Linked DNA regions of Homo sapiens: region 2 is reported to be linked to region 1. The links are microRNA targets in miRTarBase. Many come from high-throughput screens and were not tested one by one. Region 1 holds a microRNA gene; the other region holds the end of a gene's coding sequence.
The links. Region 1 holds the annotated microRNA hsa-miR-92b-3p (UAUUGCACUCGUCCCGGCCUCC, at 1,794-1,815, shown strand). A microRNA usually pairs through its seed, bases 2 to 8, with sites in the 3' UTR of a target mRNA and lowers its output. Matches are read on the target gene's strand: a 7mer-m8 pairs with bases 2 to 8, a 7mer-A1 pairs with bases 2 to 7 and ends in A, and an 8mer does both.

Region 2: miRTarBase lists SYMPK as a target of hsa-miR-92b-3p. The part of its 3' UTR that is shown has no 7-base or 8-base seed match.

What each region holds. Positions count from the first base shown.
Region 1 is chr1:155,193,444-155,198,443 of GRCh38, forward strand. It overlaps MIR92B (microRNA 92b), which reads left to right and starts at 1,734; the gene lies at 1,734-1,829. It overlaps THBS3 (thrombospondin 3), which reads right to left. Exons shown (of 23, transcript NM_007112.5): 17 at 4,966-5,000; 18 at 4,599-4,777; 19 at 4,437-4,485; 20 at 4,020-4,216; 21 at 3,598-3,770; 22 at 2,544-2,683; 23 at 2,145-2,456. The coding sequence ends at 2,398. THBS3-AS1 (THBS3 antisense RNA 1) reads left to right here and starts at 1,554. Exons shown (of 6, transcript NR_183238.1): 1 at 1,554-1,929; 2 at 3,408-3,574; 3 at 4,901-5,000. RefSeq lists a silencer at 1,237-1,566 and enhancers at 2,723-3,558, 3,559-4,394.
Region 2 is chr19:45,811,083-45,816,163 of GRCh38, forward strand. SYMPK (symplekin scaffold protein) reads right to left here. Exons shown (of 27, transcript NM_004819.3): 26 at 4,769-5,081; 27 at 4,328-4,615. The coding sequence ends at 4,478. RSPH6A (radial spoke head 6 homolog A) reads right to left here and starts at 4,226. Exons shown (of 6, transcript NM_030785.4): 1 at 3,445-4,226. The coding sequence starts at 4,094. RefSeq lists an enhancer at 1-38.

The DNA of each region.
Region 1 (5,000 bases):
TGTCCCGTTCCACACGCAGTTCTACCCTGAAACCCACAGTCCCCGCCCCAGCCGGACTTTCCAGCAGCCTGGGTTCCCTCCTTGGAGAAAGCCAAGGAGGGAGTGGGGGAAGAAATTTCCACTTAAGGGAGTAAACCTGGGCTCCGATGAACCCTAGGGTCCTTCCTTGCCACTCTCCACCACTGGCCAGGAGCTCCTCCCGCCCTCTAGTGGTCACCGGGAGCCTTGCGGGGCTGGGCCGCGCAAGCTGAGGGGCCGCTCGGACCGGGCGGAGAGGAGTAAGGGCAGCGCTGCCTAAGTGAGGCAGCGAGAGCCCGCGAGAGGGAAGCAGGGCCCGGGAGAGAAGGGTCACTGCCGTGGCCAGGGAGGGAGGAACGCACAGCATGGTGGACGGCTGGGAGCTTTAGGAGGGGGCACTCCGGGACGCGTGGTGGTGGCGTCTGGAGGAAATGGAGCTAAGCGGGTGGGGTCCTGAGGTATGTGGAAGGGGCACCGAGGTATGTGGGAGAGGACGTTGGAACGTGGGCGGGGGAGTTGGACACGTTCTGTGTGGGCCGTTATGTACTTAAGAGGCAGATCGGGCGTGGCACGGTGGCTCACGCCCGTAATCCCAACACTTTGGAAGGCCGAGGCGAGTGGATCACAAGGTCAGGGGTTCAAGACCAGCCTGGCCAAGATGGTGAAACCTCGTCTCTACTAAAAACTACAAAAATTAGCCGAGCGTGGTGGCGGGCGCTGTAACCCCAGCTACTCAGGAGGCTGAGGCAGGAGAATCGCTTGAACCCGGGAGGCGGAGGTTGCAGTGAGCCGAGATCGCGCCATTGCACTCCAGCCTGGGCGACAGAGCAAGACTCCGTCTCAAAACAAAAAAGGGGGGGGCAGAGAGTAGGTGGGGTGACAGAATGGGATTTACGGACACAGAACTATCCTTTGGGGAGCAGAGTGGTATTGGGGACAGGTAGGCACGTAGCGGGGGGCAAAAGCACACGTGAGGTGCGTAATGCGCGACAGCCAAGAGGTGTGTGCGGCAGCAGTGCACGAGGGGAGGAAGCTATCCCAGGCCGCGGCAGCACGTGGAACTTGGGTCCCGCAGTCGCAGGCTGCGCTCTAGGCCGACGGAAGCAGTTCCGCCTGTATTCAGAAAACAGTTCTCAGCCCCAAAGACACAGGTTGGAAAGAACACTTTAAAAACACTTCGGCGAGGCACGGGATTGGAGCGCATCAGATCAGCAGGCGAGAGACCACAGCTCTCGCCCGCGCGCCGCGCGGCGCCCGAGGCGCAGCTTTGTGTGCGGCGAGACCCTGGGGCAGGCGCTGGGCGGGGTGGGGACATCTGACGTCAGCGCGCCCGGGAGCGCGGGCCGGGGAGGCGGGGAGCCCCCCAACTCGCAGGCCGGAGAAAACACGAGTAGCTAGGTGGGCGGCCCCAAACCTCAACTCCCGGCATTGCCAAGCAACAGCCATTCAGTTCGGTTGCTGGGACACGCGTCACCATGGCGACGGCTCCGCGCCGCGCAGTCTGAGTACTTAAAGAGCAAGCGCGCGCAACGCCCGGGCGTCGGAAAGCGGCCTTCTGGGACTCCGCAAACTCCCGTTCTCCCTCCCCCCTCCCCCTTGCCATTCCCTTTGCCTTCCGGGCGCCAAGTCTCTCTGGCCTCCAAGGTGAACCCAACTCCCCAGCGCGCCCCGGGTTCCCGGGTCGGGCCGGCTTCAGGCGGTGGGGAGCGGGATCCCGGGCCCCGGGCGGGCGGGAGGGACGGGACGCGGTGCAGTGTTGTTTTTTCCCCCGCCAATATTGCACTCGTCCCGGCCTCCGGCCCCCCCGGCCCCCCGGCCTCCCCGCTACCCCTAGCGGGGCAGCCCCCGCCCTCCTGGCTCTCCATCCCGGCGGATCTTTGATAGACTGGAGTGTCGCCGCTGCCACCGTGAGTAAGTGGGTCTGGGAGGACTTCGGGCATCCTCCCTCAGGCACCCTATCCTTCACTTAACTCCATCCAGCACCTCCCCCACCCGCATCCCCAAATCAGCCAAACTTCCCCTAGATCCCTAACTTCCACCCTCCCAGGCTTTCTCTTCTACTCGCCGATTCCTTCCACTTCCCCACCCTATCCCGGAAAATCCCTAAAATAAGCAGTTGCACTGGCTTAGAAAACAACCAAAACTTTATGGCAATGTGCTGTCATCTTTCCTGGGGTTAGTGCCTGAGTAATACCCCTTGAAAACTTCTCATCCCCTGAAGGGTGGGGTGACCACCCCTCTGGGACTGAACTCCTTTTGGGAGCCAGAGAAGGGTCTGTGGTTGGCTGAGGGGCTGTAGCTTAGACCTCAGGGTCTCCAGGATGGACCCCAAGGCCAAAGGGTCTAAAATTCTGAATTCTGAATCTGGTGGCCTCCTCCTCACACCCTTCCCTGGAGCAGCTGCCTCCGGAATGGCTCAAAGTCCTCAGGCACTGTGTCTGAAGAAGGGGAAATAAGTAAGGTCAGAGGATGTGGCTCTCCCACAAGGCATGAAGGATTAGGTTGATCTCAATCAGCCACCTCACCATTGCATCGATACTGGAGATTGGACCAAATTATGTTTTCTTGGGAGAAGCAGAATACACCAAGACGCCCCCCTCGCATGGATGTGTCAATGATCACCCCAGAATCCGCCACAAGCTGGGGTCCCTCATAGAGCTTCACCCTGTCCAGGATTCCAGGATAGGAGTATCCATTGGTGCTAGGGTGCCAGTGGGCACTGTGCCACCATGCCTGGGGCCTTGCTTTTCCCCAGCCCCCCTTGAGCTCACCAGGCCTGAGAGAGAAGGGAGGGAGGGAAAGGGAGGCAGGAAGGAGAGGGAAGGGGGGTGCTTTTCTCAGGCCTGGGGCCCCTAGCTCTTTGTCCAGCTCCTTTTGCATCTCAAAGCACCAGCCGCATTCCAAGCGAGGATTGGGTTGCCATGACAATAAGCACAATGGGCTGGGGGGTGAAGTCACCCGCTTCCCAGGCTCTAGTCCACCCCCTTTTATCCCCTGTCCTGGCACCCCACAGCCCCAGGCACCTTAAAGGGGAACCAACCCAGGTTCCTGGACTCTGGGCTCTTGGCCATGGAAAGTCCAGCCTCTAAGCAGACCCATTTCCCCTCCCTTCCTGTTCATCTCCACCAACTAGGGCTACTTGTTGGAGAGAAATGCAAAGTTGTGGACAAAGTGTTGAACCGAGGCCTGTGAAGTCAGGGCCTTGATTTTCTCTTCTGTAAATGATGATGCCTTCCAGGTCAGATGATCCCTATCCACGTTGATAAGACAGGTTCCAGGTCATACCAACTAAGGGACCAGATGTGATGTGCCCCTTCACAGATTGGCCTGGGTTTGGAGGCTTCTGGAGAACTGTAAAGGGCATCTAACCCAATGCCCTCATTTTACAGACGGGAAAATGGGTCATGGAGGAGTGACTTCACCAACATCACTCATAGGTGCTTGTGTCCGTGGTGAGAAGGGTGATGGAGAGAAGTGGCTGCAGTTCCCACCCATGGAGAGGTCACTGGTGAATCCCAGCTAAAGAGGAAGGACAGGCCCGGCCTGAGTCCCACAGGTGGGCTCAGCCCCTCTCCTTACCGAATGTAGCCAACTTGAGGCCGGTGCAGAAGCTGCCAGCGATAGGAGGTCTTGTCCCGCCAGCCCACATTTCGTGGGTCTGTCCACAGCAGTCGTACCTGATCAGGGGTGTGGCCAGTATGCCACAGGGCATTTCGGAGGTGCTCACCTGGGCCAGACACTGATGTCACTGCCTAGGAGACATTGGCAAAGACAGTGGGTCAACTGCAGAACTGGAGTGAGGGGAGACAACAGGTCGGTAAGTGCAGGTGGGAAAGGGATTCAAGGCGGTCATGAAAATGCCCTGGGGCCCCAGAGAGCCGGCCTCCAAGCCAGATGTCTGGGTAAGAGGGTTCCCAGTCAAGCAGTGGGGGAGGCCCTGGGGCTGCAGAGGAGAGCTTTGGGAAAGGGCCCTGGGTTGCGGAATCTGAGCAGCTGGGGACCTTGAGCTGCAGCCCGGGCTGGGCAACCGCCCGGAAGGGTGTAGCCTGCCAGTAGGTCTGCTCGGTCTGCTTCCACATGACTACGTAGAAGCGGCCACTGTCTTGATAACTGAAGAGAAAGCCTGCGTAGTCATCATCAGTCACTGTGTTCACATGGAAGGTGCCTTCAAAGTCCACACCATTGAAGGCCGTGTATCCTGGGGTGGGGGTGGGATAAAGGTCAGGGGCAGCAAAGCTACTGGCGGCCCATCATGGGGTAAAGTTGGGAAGGGATGCCTGCTATGTATGTGGCCAGCTTGTGCCACTGCCTTCTCTCTCGCCACTTTGCCCATTCTCCCTGTCTGTTTCCTCCCCTACCCTCTGCCCCTATAGGATTCCTCCATTTGGAAGTGATTGAACTGCATATCCCTTACATACCAACTGCCAAGCCAGGGTCACTGTTCATGGTCTGAACGATTTCCATGCCCTGGGGTTGTATAGTAAAGAAAAAGCTGTGATGCAGGTGTGCTATCCCTCCCAGGCCCCCCGTCCCAGTAGCCCTGTCTGATAGCACCTGCCCAGCCCACTGCCCCGAGTTACCTGGTTGAGCACAACCCAGTTTGGGTCAATCTGAGCATCACCCTCAGGATCCAGGACGACGGTCTGATAGGCCCGAAAATCCGTAAGCGTTACCTCTGCACTTTCAGGACACACATCCAGGGGGTCGACCACAGCATCATTGTCAAAGTCATCCTCACACACATCACCAACGCCATTGCCTGGGCAGAGTGAGGCTGGGTGCTCAGGAAGGCCCTGGCCACTGCCATTAGGCAACAATACCATCTGTTGGGCCTGCATTCCTGACATCTTTCCCCACCTTGCCCTTCCTCACTTCCCAACAGGGCTTGCTGCCTCCACCTGGGCAAAGGCAACACCAGTCTAACGTGCTCTGGGTCCGCAGGCTTACCATCTGAGTCCTTCTGATTGGGATTGGGTACCAGG
Region 2 (5,081 bases), not on the chromosome of region 1:
TCCCGGGTTCAAATAATTCTCCTGCCTCAGCCTCCCGAGTAGCTGGGATTATAGGCGCCCGCCACCACGCCTGGTTACTTTTTGGATTTTTAGTAGAGACAGGGTTTCACCATGTTGGTCAGGCTGGTCTCGAACTCCTGACCTCGTGATCTGCCCGCCTCAGCCTCCCAAAGTGCTGGGATTACAGGCGTGAGCCACCGCGCCTTGCCGACATTCTTATGGTGGAAACAGACACTAATCAAACGAGCAAAATATATACAGTGTGTCAGGCATGGGGTGGTAATTTTTAGGGTGACACATATAGTACTGAATGGGGCCTGGGGGTGCCAGGGATGGGAGAAGGTTTGCAATTTTATTTTTTTAATTTATTTTTCAGAGGAGGTCTCGCTGTGTTGCCCAGGCTGGAGTGCAGTGGCACGACCTCAGCTCGCTGCAGTCTCTGTCTCCTGGGTTCAAGCGATTTTCCTGCCTCAGCCTCCCAAGTAGCTGGGATTACAGGCATGCACCACCATGTCCCGCTAATTTTTTTGTATTTTTTGTAGAGGGTTTCGCCATGGTGGCCAGGCTGGTCTCAAACTCCTGACCTCAGGTGATCCACCTTCTTCCGCCTCCCAAAGTGTTGGGATTACAGGCGTGAGCCACCGCACCTGGCCAACATTTGTATTATTATTATTATTATTATTATTATTATTATTATTATTATTATTAGAGACAGAGTTTTGCTTTGTTGCCCAGGCTGGAGTGCAGTGGTGTGATTTCGGCTCACCACAACCTCTGCCTCCTGGGTTCCTGGGTTCAAGTGATTCTCCTGCCTCGGCCTCCTGAGTAGCTGGGACTACAGGTGCACACCACCATCCCCGGCTAATTTTTGTATTTTTAGTAGAGACGGGGTTTCACTATGTTGGCCAGGCTGGTCTCGAACTCCTGACCTCAGGTGATCCGCCCGTCTTGGCCTCCTAAAGTGCTGGGTTAACAGGTGTGAACCACCGTGCCTGGCCAACATTTGTATTTTTTGTATTTTTTTTTTGAGACAGGGTCTCACTTTGTCACTCAGGCTGGAGTGCAGTGGCTCGGTCTTGGCTCACTGCAACCTCTGGTTCCCGGGTTCAAGTGATTCTCCCACCTCAGACTCCCCAGAGCTGGGATTACACGTGTGCCAACATGCCTGGCTAATTTTTGTACTTTTTGTAGAGATGGGGTTTTGCCATGTTGCCCAGGCTGGTCTCAAACTCCTGGACTCAAGTGATCTGCCTGCCTCAGCCTCCCCAACTGCTGGGATTACAGGCGTGAGCCACCAGGCCCGGCCACAGTCAGCCTTTGAAACCAAGTTGGTCTGATTTCCAAGCATGTATGTGTCACCTTTTGCTTTGCGGAAGCTGTTTTGTTGGCAGTCTTGGGTGTGGTGTTGGGCCATCATGGAAGTTGGGAAGGGTAAGAAGAGGTGAGACTTTGGCTAGGGCTTCTCAGGAAGAGAGCCTGAAGCTCTGAAGAGCTGGCACTTGGGGAATAGCCAGAGGTTAATTCTGACTAGATTCTAGGATCCGAGGAAGGAGCAGGTAGTGACTAGAAATCAAGTTTGGTCAGCGGCCAGGGGCTGAACCACGTAAGGCCTTTTGTTTGTTGGTTTGTTTGAGACAGAGTCTCGCTCTGTTGCTCAGGCTGGAGTGCACTGGCACGATCTTGGCTCACTGCAGCCTCTGCCTCCCGGTTCAAGTGATTCTCCTGCCTCAGCCTCCCGAGTAGCTGAGATCACAGGCGTGTGCCACCACGCCTGGCTAACTTTTTGTATTTTTAGTAGAGACAGGGTTTTGCCATGTTGGCCAGGCTGGTCTTGAACTCCTGACTTCGAGTTATCTGTCTGCCTCAGCCTCCCAAAGTGCTGGGATCACAGGCATGAGCAAGGCCTTATATGTCTCAGGCCAGGAGCCTTGAAGGTTGTGGTGAGGAGTCTGAGCTTCCCCCTGTGGGCAATGGGGAGCCATAGCAGGTTCTGAGCATTGGAGGGACACGGCCAGCTTTGTGCTTTAATAAGAACCATTACTTCATCAACCTCATTTCTCCCGCTCTCCCTCTTCCTCCCTTGGTTCCAGACACACCAGCCCCTCCTTACTGCTCCTCAAAAACAGCAAGCCTCAGAGCCTTTGCATTTGCAGTGTGCTCTGCCTGGCTCACTCTTCCTCCGGTCATCTGCAAGATGCTCTCCCTCGACTCCTTCAGGGCCCTAATCAAATGTCACCTCCTTGGACAGGCCTTCACTGACCCACACAATTTATTTTTTTGAGATGGAGTCTCGCTCTGTTGCCCAGGCTGGAGTGCAGTGGCACGATCTCGGCTCACTGCAACCTCTGCCGCCCGGGTTCAAGTGATTCTCCTGCCTCAACCTCCCGAGGAGCTGGGATTACAGGCCCATGCTACCATGCCCTGATAATTTTTGTATTTTTTAGTAGAGACAGGGTTTCGCCATGTTGGCAAGGCTGGTCTCGAACTCCTGACCTCAGGTGATCCGCCCGTCTTGGCCTCCTCAAGTGCTGGGATAACAGGCGTGAGCCACCGCACCTGGTTGGACCCCCACTATTTCATGTGTTCCCTAGCCCTCTTAGCCTCCCTTATTTTTCACCTGAGTCCTTAGCTTCAGTTTATCACTTTTTCTGTTTCTTGTCCACTCTCCTAGAATGAGAGCATCCTGGGTATCTAATGGAGGCTGAGAGCAGTGTTTTGTGACTGTAGCTAAGTGGCTTTGGCAAGTATCTTCCTCAGGCAGGGAGGTTTAGTTGCAGGATAAGAGGGTCTCAGGAGGGCTGGGCACGGTGGTTCATGCCTGCAATCCTAGCACTTTGGGAGGCTGAGATGGGCGGATCACTTGAGGTCGAGTTTGAGACTAGCCTGGGCAACATGGTGAAATCTTGCCTCTACTAAAAATACAAAAATTAGCTGGGTGAAGTGGAGCGCGCCTGTAACCCCAACTACTCGGGAGGCTGAAGCAGAAGAATCACTTGAACTTGGGAAGGAGAGGTTGCCCTAAGCCAAGACCACGCCACTGTGCTCCAGCCTGGGTGACAGGGTGAGACTATGTCTGGGGGAAAAAAAAAGCAAGAGGGCTTGGGGAGCCAAATCACGTGTTCTGGAATCCTGACTCTGCCATATCCTAGCTGTGTAGTTTTGGGTAAGCGACCCAACTTCTCTGTGTCTCGGTCTCCTCCTCTGTAAAGTAGGATGAGCTGATGTGCTCATCTCCGGTGAGAATTAGGTGAGTGTGTGCAGTGCCAGCACATGTCTGGGAAGTGAATGCTAGCTGTTGTTGGCATTGATTCCGACTCAGCTGAATTAGAGTCACTGGTTTTCCATGAGGGATGATCCCTTGTCTGACTGACTGAGGCAGGCACTTCGGGTGGGGCCCCTCCCTGCCTGGGTCCCCCACCCGCCCCACTCCTAGCCCCTGCTCACAGGCTGAGGTCGCAATTGATGCTGGTCTGCAGCAGGTAGGCCTTGGCGTTCTGCACGGCCAGCTCCAGAGGCTCGGGCTCAGGCACCTGGGCACTGTAGTGTGGGAAGCCCAGCTCAGAGGGCAAGAACTGAAGGGCAGGGTCATCCCTTATGTAAGGCCCGTGCTGGGCACCTTCAGAGAACTGGTCTGTCTGGTAGAGGTTGAACTGGCCCAAGGGGTTGACTGGGGGCTCCTGGAAGGTGGGGTCCAGTTGCTGGAACAGGCTGCTTTGGCCCTGCTGGAGCCGCTGCAGCATTAGGCTGGTGGTGAGCTCGGCGACCTGCATCCTGCTTTCATCAGAGTAAGGCTGAGGCTGGAACTCTGAGGGAAAGCCCGTGTTCACAGATGGGTACTCCATGCCACCCAGCCGGGCTTCCTCAGCCTGGAAGACCTGGGGCATCAGCAAGTTCTCCTGTTGGGACAGGCTGCCCCTCTGTGACCAACCAGGGGCGTTTCGCTGGGCGTCTGGAGGTATCTGCTGCCTCTCCTCGGGGTCCGCTGCCAGGGCCTGAGCTTGGTCCCGACTGTGCCGCCTCTGGGAGGCCTGAGAAGTCCTCCGGCCCGGAGGCTGCTGGGCAGGGCGCTCAGGGTAGGGCGGCAGGTCTCCCATGGTTCGCCAGGAGGCACAGATCTCTAGGAGAAAGGCTTGCAGACAAGGAGGCCAAGCGAGAGCCACCTGTCGACACCGCCGGTTTCTGAGCACCGAGAGAGGGGGCCGTTACCCGTGGAGGGCGCGGGGAGCGGGCCAGGGTGGGTTCCGCGCAGGCTCTGGGCGCGCACTCCCGATCCCGCGCAGCCCCACGGTGGACGTCGCGCCAGACTCGAGACGGCACCCGCGCCCCAGGCCCGCCATCCCTTTTTTTTTTTCTTTTCAGTAACTTGCCCAAGTTCACATCTTTTATTTCTTTTTAAGGCAAAGCACCCGCAGGTCAAGCCCCGCCCCGTCCCCCAGCCCCGAGTCCCTGTCCCACCCCCTTTCCCCCTCGAGCCCCGTCAGCTGTTCCCCTTGGCCTCGGGTTCCCTGGCGTCCTCGGCAGCCGGGCTGGGAGTCTTCATAGCATCTTCTCCAACAGGTGCGAGGGTCTGGGGGCTCCGCTCCTCCTTCAAGGTCAGCCCGCCCGCTGCCGTCTCCTGGTGACCGGGGAAGGAAAGGGCAGCCGGGTGGAGGGCGCGGTCACCTCCACGCTCCCCTTCAGGCCCTGCCCCCTGATGGCCCCTCCTCCCCCACCTTCACCCCGGCCCAGATCCGGCTTCTTCCTTCGCAGCGGAGGCTGCTCTCCCTACCTTGGGTAGGGGGCCCTCGAGACTAGAGTCCAACAGCGCGGCCTCGGTCAGCCCCGAGTCGTCATCCATGCTGATGAAGATGCCCGGGGTCTCGCACTCAGGCCCCTCCTCCCGGAAATCCATGGCTTCCTCAGACGGGGGCGGGCCTGGCCGGGCCGACGGAGAGGGAGAGGGGGAGGAAGAGGAGGGGGCTCCCACTCCTCCCGGCTTCAGCTTCTGTTCCTCCTCCAGCTGCCGCTTTAAGGCCTTCTCCTGGGCCAGTCGCAGGCCGATGAGGTCCTGAGGGGGCCGGGGTGCTGGGGCCGGGGCCAAG